2 linked regions of the Homo sapiens genome follow. The protein of the gene in region 1 purifies or fractionates together with the protein of each later gene. This does not show direct contact. Each region holds a gene or a part of one and is shown on either strand. Other genes may lie near its edges.

Evidence for each region.
Region 2: the proteins of UNK (region 1) and ZFYVE19 fractionate together in Homo sapiens (co-fractionation; one large-scale study listed by BioGRID). This does not show direct contact.

The regions. Positions count from the first base shown.
Region 1 is NC_000017.11:75,787,549-75,791,371, reverse strand, and holds part of UNK (RING finger protein unkempt homolog), read right to left. Parts: intron 586-3,823; exon of another isoform or gene 1-585. UniProt on the Homo sapiens protein: Sequence-specific RNA-binding protein which plays an important role in the establishment and maintenance of the early morphology of cortical neurons during embryonic development.
Region 2 is NC_000015.10:40,809,888-40,812,958, reverse strand, and holds part of ZFYVE19 (abscission/NoCut checkpoint regulator), read right to left. Parts: coding exon 2,989-3,071; intron 2,889-2,988; coding exon 2,743-2,888; intron 2,572-2,742; coding exon of another isoform or gene 2,489-2,571; exon of another isoform or gene 2,488-2,488; intron 2,311-2,487; coding exon 2,202-2,310; intron 261-2,201; coding exon 57-260; intron 1-56. UniProt on the Homo sapiens protein: Key regulator of abscission step in cytokinesis: part of the cytokinesis checkpoint, a process required to delay abscission to prevent both premature resolution of intercellular chromosome bridges and accumulation of DNA damage.

The sequences.
Region 1 (3,823 bases):
ATCAGATGCAATCAAGTGAAGTTAATGACATTTACGTAATACATAAACTGACAAAACTGCCTGAAAAGAGTTATCTATGGAAGTATTGCTACATTATCTTTGTTTAATTCGATGCCCAGGAAACCAGTCCTAAATTTAAATGATGCCTAGATAGATGAAGCTATAAAGTATTTATTCTCTGTCGACCTATAAGAAATCACCAAGTGGCCAGAAAACTCCTGCAAACCTTCACTAAACTAGAATTTCATTTTCCTTTAACATGAGGGCATTAAAATTAAGAAGTCTGAGAACCGACTGCAGTCACTGCAGTTGAAGGCATGAAGACATGATTAGTCTTTGAGGTATACTTCCTCTCATGGGGTCAAAACAATGAGGTCAGAAACTTGGAGAGTTTAATATTTATTTATTTATTTTTATTTTATTATTTTTTTCAAGCCAGAGTCTCGCTCTGTTGCCCAGGCTGGAGTGTAGTAGTGTGATCTCGGCTCACTGCAACCTCCGCAACCTCCGCCTCCTGGGTTCAAGCGATTCTCCTGTCTCAGCCTCCCGAGTAGCTGGGATTACAGGCATGCACCACCACGCCCAGCTAATTTTTGTATTTTTAGTAGAGATGGAGTCTTGCCGTGATGGCCAGGCTGGTCCCGAACTCCTGACCTCAAGTGATCCACTCGCCTCGGCCTCCCAAAGTGTCAAGATTACAGGCGTGAGCCACCACGCCCAGCCAATTATTTATTTATTTTTCAGATAGGGTCTTGCTCTGTCACCCAGGCTGGAGTGCAGTAACACAATCTTGGCTCACTGTAGCCTCTATCTCCTGGGCTCAGGGATCCTCCCACCTCGGCCTCCTGAGTATCCAGGACCACAGATGCACACCACCACACCAGGCTCGTTTTTTTAATTTTTAGTAGAGAGGAGGTCTTGCTATGTTGCCCATGCTGGTCTGGAACTCCTGGGCTCAAGTGATCCTCCTGCCTCAGCTTCCCAACGAGTTGGGACTATAGCTAGCATACCCAGCTGGATATTTCAGATGGTAGTTTTTCTGTGACCTTTCAAGAATAAACTTTTTTTTTCCCTTGAGATGGAGTCTGGCTCTGTTGTCCAGGCTGGAGGGCAGTGGCGAGATCTCGGCTCACTGCAACCCCCGCCTCCTGGGTTCAAGCAATTCTCCTGCCTCAGTGTGTGCCACCACACCCAGCTAATTTTTGTATTTTATTTTTTTGTTTTTGTTTGAGACGGAGTCTAGTCCTGTCACCCAGGCTGGAGTGCAATGGCGCGATCTCGGCTCACTGCAACCTCCGCCTCCCAGGTTCAAATGATTCTCCTGCCTCAGCCTCCTCAGTAGCTGGGATTACAGGCGCCCGCCACCATGCCCAGCTATTTTTTTGTATTTTTAGTAGAGACGGGGGTTTTACCACGTTGGCCAGGCTGGTCTCGAACTCCTGACCTCATGATCCGCCCACCTCAGCCTCCCAAAGTGCTGGGATTACAGATGTGAGCTACTACGCCCTGCTCAGCTATACACTTTCAATAGTATAACTGTTAATACAGCAAAAAGCCAAAAGGTAGCTAAACTTGTAGATACATTTTGAGACGTGATTGCTACAAAAGTTCTCCTCATTCTTAAACGTTTTTATAAAACTCTTCCAATATACAAGACAGTATGTTATAAACAAAGCTGAATTAAATTCATTATTTGTCAAATTAAAAGACAAACTGTCTAGTAAAAGGAGGTCACAGGCCAGGCGCAGTGGTTCATGCCTGTAATCCCAGCACTTTGGGAGGCCGAGACGGGCAGATCACGAGTTCAGGAGATCGAGACCATCCTGGCTAACACAGTGAAACCCCATCTCTACTAAAAATACAAAGAATTAGCTGGGCATGGTGGCGGGCGCCTGTACTCCCAGCTACTGGGGAGGCTGAGGCAGAAGAATGCCGTGAACCCAGGAGGCGGAGCTTGCAGTGAGCCGAGATCGCGCCACTGCACTCCAGCCAAGGGCAACAGAGCGAGACTCGGTCTCAGAAAAAAAAAAAGAGGTCATGTGGTTCTTGTATTGGAAGAATAATAATACATATACATTATCGTTTTACTAAGTGCTAAGCAAATACTTGGAGCTGTACAATAAAGGAACTTCTGACATAACTGTTTTCTAAAAGGACTGGATTCCTAAGTCCAGCACAAGTGCCTGCTACACCAATTTGCTGAAAGGATTATTCCAAAGTTTCCCTTAAAGCAAGATTATTCAAGAGTTTAGAAAAAAAAAATCAACAAAATTATCCTTTAAACTATGTTATGAATAATCCTCTTGGTTTAGGAAAAGGAGGGCTCAAACTCTAAGAACTTTAATTTCAGCACAAGAATGAAGGGCAAGAAAGGGAAACCAATGGCAACATAATTTTTTGCTTTTAGTGTATTCAACTGTGTTTGCCAAGATTACTGTTATGGTGAGTGAGACTCAATTATCACACAAGTGTCTCTGGATTATTGCAAAGACTACAGCATGTTACCTAATTTCAAATAACATCAGGTATAAAACTATACAAAATTAATTAATGTATAAGAAAGTCCAGGTGAGGTGGCTCACACCTTCTCAGGCTCACGCCTTCCCATGCCACTGTACACCAGCCTGGGTGACAGAGCAAGATCCTGTCTCTTGCTCTGTCCAACCAACCTGGGTGACAAAAATAAATTTAAAAAAAAAATTAAAAATAAAAATAAAAGTGGCTGGGCGCGGTGGCTCACACCTGTAATCCCAGCACTTTGGGAGGCCGAGGCGGGCAGATCACGAGGTCAGGAGTTCAAGACCAGCCTGACCAACATGGTGAAACCCCATCTCTACTAAAAATACAACTAAATAAATAAATAAAAGTTTAAAAAGGTAAAAAATTTGACAGGCAGACGGGAACAGTGGCTCACGCCTGTAATCCCAGCAGTTTGGGAGGCCAAGGTGGGCGGATCACGAGGTTAGGAGTTCGAGATCAGCCTGGCCAACACAGTGAAACCCTGTCTCTACTAAAAATACAAAAATTAGCCAGCCATGGTGGCGTGTGCCTGCAGTCCCAGCTACTTAGGAAGCTGAAGCAGGAGAATTGCTTAAACCCGGGAGGTGGAGGTTGCAGTAAACTGAGATCACGCCACTGCACTCCAGCTTGGGCAACAGAGTGAGACTTTGTCTCCAAAAAAAAAAAAAAGAAAAAATTGACAGGCAAAAACTTACAAATATTCAAAAGGGGTCTATCTCTGTATTCAAAATGGGATCAATTATTATCAATGATCAATTATTATTCCACTCCGTATGTCCATGTGTACCCACTGTTTACCTCCCAAGCAGCTCAAATTTTCATTTAAAATCAAAATCAAAATGCTCCCGCCCCCTAACTCCCAAGGGCAATAAATGAATTCACCTTATGGGGGTGGAGGGAAGCAGGTATGGTGGTATGTGCCTGTAGTCCCAGCTACTCAGGAGGCTAAGGCAGGACTGCTTGAGCCCAGGAATTCAAGTCCACCTGGTTAACACAGAGAGATCACGTCTCTCTTTTTTTTTTTTTTTGGACCGAGTCTCACTCTGTCACCCAGGTTGGAGTGCAGTGGCACAATCTCTGCTCACTGCAACCTCTGCCTCCTGGGTTCAAGCGATTCTCCTGCCTCAGCCTCCTGAGTAGCTGGGACTGCAGGTGTGTGCCACCAGGCCTGACTAATTTTTTGTATTTTTAGTAGAGACGGGGTTTCCATGTTGGCCAGGTTGGTCTCGAACTCCTGACCTCAAGTGATCCACCCACCTCAGGCTCCCAAAGTGCTGGGATTACAGGTGTGAGCAACCGCACC
Region 2 (3,071 bases), on another chromosome or scaffold:
TGCCAGGGAGGCCTTGACCAAGGGATACCAGTGAGCAGCTGCTCCCCAGCCTTCACCTCTCTCGGGGTCCTGTCCCCGCAGCATGGCTAGTCGCTTGGCCAGGGCCAGAATCCGTTCCTGCCTCGTGTTCTCCTCCCGCAACTCAAGTGCTGCCTCAGCCAGCAGTCTGCTCTTCTCCTCCTCCAAGGACCAGTTGGCCTGCCTCTTGGAATTAGTGCTCCCTGGGCCACCCTGGTTGAGATCATTCTGGAGAGAGGCAGCTGGAAGGGGTAATGCCATCAGCAAGGCCGAGACATCCCAGTATCTCTCCTCAGAAGCCAATGAGCCCATTTCTCAACCTTTTCTTTTCTTTTTCTTTAATAATTTTTTCTTTCTTTCTTTCTTTCTTTCTTTCTTTCTTTTTTTTTTTTTTTGAGATGGAGTCTCGCTCTGTCACCCAGGCCGGAGTGCAGTGGTGCAATCTCAGCTCACTGCAACCTCTGCCTCCTGGATTCAAGCGATTCTCCTGCCTCAGCCTCCTGAGTAACTGGGATTACAGGCACGTGACACCATGCCCGGCTAATTTTTGTATTTTTAGTAGAGACGGGGTTTCAACATGTTGGTCAGGCTGGTCTCCAACTCCTGACCTCGTGATCCACCCGCCTCAGCCTCCCAAAGTGCTGGGATTACAGGCGTGAGCCATCATGCCCAGCTTTTCTCAACCCTTTCTAATCACAGATCATCAGCTTTTTGCTCAGCACTAGCGCCTATGGTTTCTATCACAAATAAAATTAGTATTCCTCCATTTTTCCAAATGTAAAAAACTAATAATTTTACCCATGTCTTTTCCAACCACATCCATCCCCATCTACCTGATATTTTAACATTCTGCCCTAAGGGTGGGCGTCCTATGGTTTGAGAATCACTGCCCTAAAGGATCAAGACATGATAAGGCCCAGGTTCAGCCGATCTCTTTGCCTTTCAGGGCAGGAATTAGCATCTCCTGGGATTAGCACAGAGAGGGCAATGAAGGAAGCTAAGAGCTTGTATATCACTGGGCAGGAAGAATTTTACCAGATTAGGTGTGGCTCTGACACAGTCACCTTCAGTTTAGTGTTTCAGAGCAAGAGGTTTAAAATCACAGCTTTAGGTTTAAGTCTCATCTCTGCAGCTTAATAGCTGTGTGACCTTGGTCAAGTTCCTCAAGCTCACCAGGCCTGTTTCCTCATTTATAAAAAAGAATAGTATGTACCTTATAAGATTTTTTTTTTAAACAGAGTCTTGCTATGTTGCCCAGGCAGGTCTTAAATTCCCCAGCTCAAGCTATCCTCCCTCCTGCCTCTGCCTCCTTAAGTGCTTAGGATTACAGGCGTGAGCCACACCTGGCCTCATAAGATTATTGAGGATATTCAATGAGATTGTGCCTCTAAAGCAGGACTTCTCAATCTTAGTTCTCTTGACACTTTGGACCGGGTAATTCTTCATCATGATGTGCTGTCCTGTGACATAGTAGATTTAGTAGCATCCCTGGCTTCTATCCTGTAGGTGCCAGTAATATCCTCTGGGTTGTGACAACCAAAAAGTCTCTAAATGTTGCCACAAGTAGCCTGGGGGCAAAATCATCCTTTGTTGAAAACCACTGCTCTGAAGCCTTCAAACAGCACTGTCCAACAGAATGTTCTATGATGATGGAAACATTCCATATCATGTTCTATATCTGTGCTGTCCAAGATGGTAGCCATGAAGCCCATATGGCTACTGAGCATTGAGATGTGGCTGGTTTTACTAAATAGCTTCTTCCTCCTTATCAACATCATGATTGCAGAGAATATTCACTGAGTACTCACTATGAGTCAGGTATGTTCCCAAGCACTTATTGGATTATCTCGTTTACTCCTCCTGATTTCCCTGTGAGGTAGGTTTTTCCATACATACCTTCATTTTACACATGAGGAAAGTGAGACTTAGGTCAAGTAACTTGTCCAGCATCACACAGCTAATACGTGGTAGAAATGGGAATCACTGTCTGATTCTAAAGCCCGTGCACTTAAACACTAGGCTTACACTGGCTCCCTTTGGAGTAAGCACTCAATGAATGGTAACTCTTATAACGTTGATCACTCTCCGATTTATATTCATCTCCCAGAGGGTGGACAGCAGAGCCTCTCCAGTCTGGGGAAAGAGGTAGGGCAGATTCCTAGGGAGCCAAGTGGAGGGGTTACCTGGGCCTCCTCCTTTCCAGCTTTCATCGATAGCCACCTCAGCTGCCAGCTGCGTTAGCAGATCCTGTGTCTGCTGGGCTTGGGTCCTGGTGTCCGGTGTGTGATGTGCCTGCACAGACGAGGAAACCTCAGTGGAGAGCAGGGGTAGCCCAGAAGCAGTCTAGGTCAGGGATGGATGCTAAGTAGTTCTCAAAGCCCAGGGAAAGGAGAGGGATCCAGGGCCCACATAATCAAGTAGGTCTGGCCGTCCCCAACAGGACTGAGGGGCCACTTTTTCCTGCCCTACCCTATCGTGCTGTTTGTCCCTGGTCCCCGGGTCTGGTAGCAGGCCTGAGGATCAGGAGGTAGGGGTGGGAGGCTTTGCCAACTCCTGCAAAGTACATAAAGTACAAAGGTTGGTGCAAAAGTAACTGAGGTTTTTGCAATTAAAAGTAATGACAAAAACCACAATTACTTTTGTATCACCCCAATACCTGTATCTGGGCTTCTGCTGGGTCCTCCCGCTAGCACCCCCGCTTCTCTCCTAAGCCATAACACTCACCGGCTGGGGGGTTTGAGAAGGTAGAACTCTGCCCTGCAACGCTGCAAGTCGTGCCTCCATTTCCTGGGTGGAAGGGATGGAACCCTGACGTTCATCCTTTAGGGCAGCCAGCCGTGCCTCTATCTCTGCCTGTGAGGGGACTAACTCTGCAATTGGCATGGGGGGAGCCTTGTAAGGGCCAGAGGCATCTCAGTCCCAGAAGCCCTGGACTGTGTCCTCTAGGCAACCCCATCTGCCCCTGCTCACTGGGCTTGTTCTCCTGGCGGAGTCGTGCTAGGCGCTCAGCAATCATCTGGTCTTGTCGTGTCAGTCCCTGGCTCTGGGAAGTG